Linked DNA regions of Homo sapiens: all the other regions are linked to region 1. The links come from fine-mapping of genetic effects on gene expression. A gene starts in region 1. Each other region holds a variant in brackets. All regions are shown on one strand. Distances are from middle to middle. Region 1 holds the start of IL21R (interleukin 21 receptor). Region 2 overlaps IL21R (interleukin 21 receptor). Region 3 overlaps IL21R (interleukin 21 receptor).

Region 1 (2,718 bases):
GTATTTCTGAGGTTTAAATGAGAGGGTGCATCTTTAAAGTCCTTAAAACCCTGGCACACAATGAGCTTTCAGCAAATATTAGCTCTTTTTACTGTCTCTTCTCCTGATCTTTCAACCACTACAAATTTCAGTGCATGTTATCAGAGAATTCACCCCGAAGATCAAGAGAAAGAAAAACAAAAGCTGGTGTCTTCCCAAGGTTCGTTCTCCAGAGAACACGACACACTTCGGTAGCTGGGAAGAGCTCTACAGGGCCAGGATCCCTCAAATCAACCACAGGGGAATTTGTACCAAGTTCCTCAAAAACAGCTAGAAAAAAAAAGAAAGAAAGAATAGCAAGACGCTTTCTCTTTTTTCTCTGGAGTGGTCACGAAAGTCAACAGCAAGTTGATTCCCAAAAATGAGTCAGCAGGGAGAGCTACAAATTGCATCTTGTTATCAAAACAGCATAAAATAGCCTCCCCCAACTGTGGGACATTTCATCCTGGTATGGCCCCGTTTTCACAGCCTGGTATAAGCTTAGGAATCAAACACACCCAGGTTCAAATCCCAGCTCTAATTCTTCTTGGCTTGTGTGACGTTTCACTCCTCTGGGCCTCAGTCTCTCCATCTGTAAAATGGGACTAATCTTGTCTGCCTCACACTTTGTGGGATAAAGTGAGATCATGTAGGCACCAAAGTAATTCGAGGTGGTGGTGATGGCAGTGGTAGTGGTGGTGGTGGTAGCGGTGGTGGTGGTAGCAATTCTCTTGCTCTCCTTTGGAGACTGCACTAGGCATTAAGCTTGTTACATTTTGTCTCCTGGTTTCTTGAATGTCTTCCAGAAACATCTGACCCTCTCATGGGCCTCTGGCATGTTAGCAAGATGAAAACTCTCTTGAGAATTTCTTTTCTCTATTTTCTTCTTGAATTCTCATGTGTTAATGTCTGCCCTCTTCCTCATAGCTAGGTGCCCCCATTTGACAGATGGGCAAAGTGAGGCATTCAGAGAGGTGATGTGACGTGCCCAAGGGGTCCTGCTCCCTGGAGCTCTGCAGCAGGAGACTGGATCCAAAGGAAATGGAGGCAGAGAGGCATGGGGGTCAAGCCAGAGCAGAGGGTCCCAAGCTCAGACCCTATTAGGCAGGTAAGGCTCAGGAATAAGAAACAGGCTGGTTTGCAAAGTCTGAAAAAGGGGCTTCCGTGGGACCTTGGGCAAGGTTCTGGTCCTTCTCTCTGTGCTGAGGGGCTGGAGTCGGCCACTGAGGACTCTGGGTCCACGGGTGAAACTGTGCCACATCTTCACACCTCTGGCCTCAGTTTCCATATCTGTGCAATGTGGTGGCTCCAGGAGGCACTGCCTGCCTCATGGGTTATGACTGAGAGGCCTGTGGGGATGATGTCACAGGTCCCTAAGAGGGAAGTGTCACCCCGATGGCCCCAAATGTCTTACTTGCAGGTGACCTTTGGTGACAGTGGGTGCCTGCTGTGGGGCCAGGCCCCCTCCCACCTCTTTCTCACTCCCTCCCAGGAGGAGCCCAGCTGCGGGTGGGCGGGGCTGGCGGGGAGCGGCTCACCACATCCTCCTCTTCCTCCCCACTCTGCACATGCGGCTGGGTGGCAGCCAGCGGCCTCAGACAGACCCACTGGCGTCTCTCTGCTGAGTGACCGTAAGCTCGGCGTCTGGCCCTCTGCCTGCCTCTCCCTGAGTGTGGCTGACAGCCACGCAGCTGTGTCTGTCTGTCTGCGGCCCGTGCATCCCTGCTGCGGCCGCCTGGTACCTTCCTTGCCGTCTCTTTCCTCTGTCTGCTGCTCTGTGGGACACCTGCCTGGAGGCCCAGCTGCCCGTCATCAGAGTGACAGGTCTTATGACAGCCTGATTGGTGACTCGGGCTGGGTGTGGATTCTCACCCCAGGCCTCTGCCTGCTTTCTCAGACCCTCATCTGTCACCCCCACGCTGAACCCAGCTGCCACCCCCAGAAGCCCATCAGACTGCCCCCAGCACACGGAATGGATTTCTGAGAAAGAAGCCGAAACAGAAGGTAATTCCAGCCCTGGTTTTCTGCTGGGACCAGGGTGCCTTCTCTGCCCAGGAGGGACTGTTCCCTGCCTGCTGCATCTAGTGTCACAGTGGGAGGGCTCGGAGGACTGTGCCCAAGTCACAATTGGGGACACTGAGGCAAAGAAGATTCATGCAGTGAGGCTGGGCAGAAATGAGGTTGGGGTCTCTTGTTCAGCACAGCTTAGGGGCCCAGCAGCAGGGATGTGGCTGAGACGACCCTCTATCTTGAAAACCAGCCTCCAAAATGTAGCGGGCTGGGGAAGGAAAGCCAGTTTCAAGCCAAACATAACATGTCAATCACCCGATTCTGGGCGGCTGAGTCGGGAGGTGACGGGCATGGGTGTAGAGCCTGATGGGACCCATTCTGTGTCAGTTTCTATGTCTTACCACCTTGATTCCACCCAGTCATTCAAAACAATGGCTGGTGTGCCCATTTCGCAGATGAGGCAATGAGGCTGCGAGAGGTAGAGTGATTTTCCCTCGGTGACTCAACTGGGACGTAGCAGGTCGGGCAGTCAAGCCAGGTGACCCCATGAGCTGTCGCTGCATCTTTCTCATGAAGCACGGGGAACGGGTCGGATGGTAAGAGGCCAACCCAGTTCCCTGTGCATGTGGAGGAGAGGAGGGTGGGGAGGTCAGTGGAGGCTGAGCCTTGAAGGATGGGAAAGGAAGAACA
Region 2 (2,777 bases), 38 kb after region 1:
GCCCATGAGCTCGGGAGTTTCTGCCGCTAGATTCCCAGCAGAGGGGCTGGGGTATAAGAGGTGTCTGTGATTCACACTCTGGGGGTCCAGGTTTGCACCTCTTTGCTGAGTGGATGTCACACCACAGAGCGTGAGAGTGAAGCTTCACACACTCCCAGACACATGCACACTCACGCAAATTCCCAGGGTCACAGACTCACGCACACACAGACTCATAGATGCGCCCTCAAACTCACAGATGTCTCCCCAGCCCCAGCCTGCATGGCATGGACACAGAGGCCCACACTGCCTCTCTCTCTTGCTCTCTCTCACTCTCATACACACTCACACATACATACACACACACACACACACACACGTACACAATACACACACACTCACACATATACTCTCACATCACTCATACATGGGCACACACACGCACACACTCACACATGCATTCTCACACACGTGTAGACTCACACATGCACACACATATACACTTTCTCACACGTGTGCACACACGCACATATACACATACTCATACACTCTCACATCACACACGGGCACACATATGCACACACTCACACATGCATTCTCACACACGTGTACACTCATGCACAGACACACACATTACTCACGGGCACACATGCACACACTCACACATGCACAGACTCACAAGGGGACCCTCCTTGCCACTTGTCTTGCAGCGTGAATCCAAGCATTTCTCTCTGGCATTCCCTCCCTCCCTGCCAGGATCTGCAGCTAGCCTGGTCCCAGCTGGGGCAGGAAGTGATTTTCTAACCACCTCCCGCCGAGGGTCCCTTCCTCCTCCTGGGCCCTGGGCCTCGCTGGGCTGAGCAGCCCCTCTTCACGACCCCCAGGCTCTGCAAACATCTCCCGAGTACCCACGGGGCAGTTCTCAGTACCCTGGTGTCTTCTGGGACTCATCCTCACCCAGCCACACAGGGAAGCCGAGAGCCGGCCTCCACCTGCCCCGGGGAAGACAAAAGAGGGGTTAGAAACGATTTCAGTCAAAAACATCCCATTACTGGAACAGCAACAGCAACAACCCAGTGTTCACCATGGCATTCTGTAAAATGTGCACCTCTGTCACCTCGGGGCGTGGTGGGAGCCCTCAGTGCGGGTTTCAGGATCACAGGCAGCCTTAGAGCTCCTTTCTGGAGGCCTTGCAAGGTTCATTAGTTAATCTGACAAATATATATATATATATATATATATATAGAGAGAGAGAGAGAGAGAGAGAGAGAGAGAGCGAGC[A/G]AGCGCGCGCCAGGGTGTAGCTTTGTCCTCCAGCCTGGGGTGCAGTGGCACAACCATAGCTCATTGCAGCCTGGAACTCCTGGGCTCAAGCGATCCTCCCACTTCGGCCTCCTGAGTGGTTGGGACTACAGGTGCACATCACCATCCTGGCTAATTTTTAAATTTTTTGTAGAGCTGGGATCTTGCTGTGTTGTCCAGGCTGGTCTTGAACACCTGGCCTCAAGCAATCCTCCCACCTCAGCCTCCCAAAGTGCTGAGATTTTTGGCATGAGCCACCTTGCCCAGCCTAATTTGCCAAATATTTATTGAGGGCCTACTGTGCCCCAGGCTGTGTTCTAGGAGCTGTGGGCACAGACTGAACCTGGAGGACAAAACCTCTGCCCCAAGGAGCTAAGAGCCCAGTGAGGGAGGCACATAGTAAACAAAATCACAGGGTGAGAGGTGCAGAGTGTTAGATGGTGGCAGATTGAAAGTGAAGAAGGTGGCTGGGTGTGGTGGCTCACACCTGTAGTCCCAGCACTTTGGGAGGTTGAGGTGGGTGGATCACTTGAGGTCAGAAGATCAAGACCAGTCTGGCCAACATGGGGAAACTACTTCTCTACTAAAAATACAAAAATTAGCCAGTCATGGTGGTGCGCACCTATGGTCCCAGCTACTTGGGAGGCTGAGGCCGTGTAATCGCTTGGGCTTGGGAGGTGGAGACTGCAGTGAGCTGAGATCACGCCACTGCACTCCAGCCTGGGTGACAGAGATTCTGTCTCAAAAAAAAAAAAAAAAAAAAGAAAGAAGAGAAAAAAGAAAGGGAGGGAGGGAGGGAAGGAGGGAGAAAGGAAGGAAGGAAGGAGAACAAAAAAAGAAAAAGTGGAGAAGGTGAGGGCAGAGGCCTGCAACTCCTCTCTGACACTAATAGACACTTGTCACTCAGTTCCTCTGAAGTTACTGCCTTCTGCTAAATAGCTTCATCCCTTTGAACTTGAAGCCCCATGATATAGGAACTGAGCCCATTTTACAAGAGAGGAATTTAAGGCCCTTAACATATTGTGTTCTGCTCAAGTTCATGAAATGTCCTTCGAATGGAGCAAAAACAGAATGCCGGCTTTGACCTTCACCTGGAGGCCGCCCATGAAAGCTTGCTGTTATGGCTCAGAGCTCGGCTCTTGCACTTGCCAGGAGACGCTGAAAGATGAGGACCATCAGATTGGCCTCCCAGGGCCACTGTGGGGTGTCAAACTGCCCAGAGCAGGGCAGCCAGGCAGGCTCTGTGTAAATGGCAGCCCTCACCATTAGCATTCATGCTAAGAAGAGTCATCAACTGCTTGAAGTAGCTGGGGTTGAAAGAAAATGATACCATCATTTAGAACAGAAATGGAAAATGAATGGATTTGCCAGCACGTTGCTGAGAACATTTTTGGATGGGTTGCTAACTTTAAAACTTAATATAGGCCAGGTGCAGTGGCTTGTTCTTGCAATCCCAGGATTTTGGGAGGCTGAGGTGGGAGCATCACTTGAGGCCAGGA
Region 3 (2,777 bases), 48 kb after region 1:
CCTCACCTTACCCTCATCCTGTGCTATGACTCTCTCTTTTTCTCTCTCACAGAAATGGGTGGGTGCACCCTTCACTGGCTCCAGCCTGGAGCTGGGACCCTGGAGCCCAGAGGTGCCCTCCACCCTGGAGGTGTACAGCTGCCACCCACCACGGAGCCCGGCCAAGAGGCTGCAGCTCACGGAGCTACAAGAACCAGCAGAGCTGGTGGAGTCTGACGGTGTGCCCAAGCCCAGCTTCTGGCCGACAGCCCAGAACTCGGGGGGCTCAGCTTACAGTGAGGAGAGGGATCGGCCATACGGCCTGGTGTCCATTGACACAGTGACTGTGCTAGATGCAGAGGGGCCATGCACCTGGCCCTGCAGCTGTGAGGATGACGGCTACCCAGCCCTGGACCTGGATGCTGGCCTGGAGCCCAGCCCAGGCCTAGAGGACCCACTCTTGGATGCAGGGACCACAGTCCTGTCCTGTGGCTGTGTCTCAGCTGGCAGCCCTGGGCTAGGAGGGCCCCTGGGAAGCCTCCTGGACAGACTAAAGCCACCCCTTGCAGATGGGGAGGACTGGGCTGGGGGACTGCCCTGGGGTGGCCGGTCACCTGGAGGGGTCTCAGAGAGTGAGGCGGGCTCACCCCTGGCCGGCCTGGATATGGACACGTTTGACAGTGGCTTTGTGGGCTCTGACTGCAGCAGCCCTGTGGAGTGTGACTTCACCAGCCCCGGGGACGAAGGACCCCCCCGGAGCTACCTCCGCCAGTGGGTGGTCATTCCTCCGCCACTTTCGAGCCCTGGACCCCAGGCCAGCTAATGAGGCTGACTGGATGTCCAGAGCTGGCCAGGCCACTGGGCCCTGAGCCAGAGACAAGGTCACCTGGGCTGTGATGTGAAGACACCTGCAGCCTTTGGTCTCCTGGATGGGCCTTTGAGCCTGATGTTTACAGTGTCTGTGTGTGTGTGTGCATATGTGTGTGTGTGCATATGCATGTGTGTGTGTGTGTGTGTCTTAGGTGCGCAGTGGCATGTCCACGTGTGTGTGTGATTGCACGTGCCTGTGGGCCTGGGATAATGCCCATGGTACTCCATGCATTCACCTGCCCTGT[G/A]CATGTCTGGACTCACGGAGCTCACCCATGTGCACAAGTGTGCACAGTAAACGTGTTTGTGGTCAACAGATGACAACAGCCGTCCTCCCTCCTAGGGTCTTGTGTTGCAAGTTGGTCCACAGCATCTCCGGGGCTTTGTGGGATCAGGGCATTGCCTGTGACTGAGGCGGAGCCCAGCCCTCCAGCGTCTGCCTCCAGGAGCTGCAAGAAGTCCATATTGTTCCTTATCACCTGCCAACAGGAAGCGAAAGGGGATGGAGTGAGCCCATGGTGACCTCGGGAATGGCAATTTTTTGGGCGGCCCCTGGACGAAGGTCTGAATCCCGACTCTGATACCTTCTGGCTGTGCTACCTGAGCCAAGTCGCCTCCCCTCTCTGGGCTAGAGTTTCCTTATCCAGACAGTGGGGAAGGCATGACACACCTGGGGGAAATTGGCGATGTCACCCGTGTACGGTACGCAGCCCAGAGCAGACCCTCAATAAACGTCAGCTTCCTTCCTTCTGCGGCCAGAGCCGAGGCGGGCGGGGGTGAGAACATCAATCGTCAGCGACAGCCTGGGCACCCGCGGGGCCGTCCCGCCTGCAGAGGGCCACTCGGGGGGGTTTCCAGGCTTAAAATCAGTCCGTTTCGTCTCTTGGAAACAGCTCCCCACCAACCAAGATTTCTTTTTCTAACTTCTGCTACTAAGTTTTTAAAAATTCCCTTTATGCACCCAAGAGATATTTATTAAACACCAATTACGTAGCAGGCCATGGCTCATGGGACCCACCCCCCGTGGCACTCATGGAGGGGGCTGCAGGTTGGAACTATGCAGTGTGCTCCGGCCACACATCCTGCTGGGCCCCCTACCCTGCCCCAATTCAATCCTGCCAATAAATCCTGTCTTATTTGTTCATCCTGGAGAATTGAAGGGAGGTCAAGTTGTTTGTCAATGATTTGTCAGAGAACCTGTTGAAATGTGAATTAAGAAGCTAAGAAAATATTTCTTAGCAACATTTTCTTTTTCTTTTTTTTTTTTTTCTTTTGAGACAGAGTCTCACTCTCGTCGCCCAGGCTGGAATGCAGTGGTGCGATCTCGGCTCTCTGCAACCTCTGTCTCCCGGGTTCAAGCGATTTCCTGCGTCAGCCCCAGAGTAGCTGGAATTACAGGCACACACCACCACGCCTGGCTAATTTTTGTATTTTTAGTAGAGCTGGGGCCACCCTGGCCCGGCCCCGTCTTCCTCCCCAAAGGTCAGACTGCAGGCTGCAGGGCTGTGCTGGAGGAGCCAGCTCTAGCTCACCCATGCTTTTGCAACAGGGTCGGGTTGGAAGTCAGCACAGGTCAGTCCTGCGGAAGGTTCCTTCGTGACTCATCTGTGAAGTGGGGTGGTTGGGAGAGGTAGCTGAGAGAATGCATGAGAGTCCTCGGTGCCTGGCAGGAGGCTGGAAGGTTCTAGAACACTGATGGTTATAAGAGTGGGACTGTGAGCCTGGGATCGGGGGGTGTGAGACTTGGATGGGAGCACAAGAGTGGAAACACAGCTTCTGCACGGAGCAGGCGCAGCCCTCAACACCCCGTGCACCTGCACCCTAGGGACTCTTGGGTCCAGATGTGCTGTGGTTTTCACACCTTCTTGGGGGCAACAGGTTCCAGGAGCCACCTGTGGGTGCCACCTGAGCCACAGGCTCCCAGGAAAGCA

What was found. PIP is the estimated chance that this variant, and not a neighbour inherited with it, causes the effect. A credible set is the group of variants that fine-mapping cannot tell apart.
Region 2: its variant is the best candidate, but not a certain one, in a credible set for the expression of IL21R in CD4 T cells (CEDAR, PIP 0.55).
Region 3: its variant is the best candidate, but not a certain one, in a credible set for the expression of IL21R in whole blood (INTERVAL, PIP 0.70).

The regions. Positions count from the first base shown.
Region 1 is chr16:27,400,597-27,403,314 of GRCh38, forward strand. IL21R (interleukin 21 receptor) reads left to right here and starts at 1,578. Exons shown (of 9, transcript NM_181078.3): 1 at 1,578-2,022. RefSeq lists enhancers at 1,655-2,197, 2,090-2,209.
Region 2 is chr16:27,439,026-27,441,802 of GRCh38, forward strand. All of the region lies in intron 4 of IL21R (interleukin 21 receptor), which reads left to right. Among named protein-coding and RNA genes, the nearest start is that of IL21R-AS1, 13 kb to the right of the region's middle. RefSeq lists an enhancer at 1-368. The variant A/G (reference allele first, on the strand shown) is at 1,261.
Region 3 is chr16:27,448,482-27,451,258 of GRCh38, forward strand. IL21R (interleukin 21 receptor) reads left to right here. Exons shown (of 9, transcript NM_181078.3): 9 at 53-2,777. The coding sequence ends at 802. IL21R-AS1 (IL21R antisense RNA 1) reads right to left here. Exons shown (of 3, transcript NR_037158.1): 3 at 1-1,325. Among named protein-coding and RNA genes, the nearest start is that of IL21R-AS1, 3.5 kb to the right of the region's middle. RefSeq lists enhancers at 165-224, 525-764, 1,027-1,904, 1,565-1,724, 1,745-1,794 and 1 more. The variant G/A (reference allele first, on the strand shown) is at 1,095.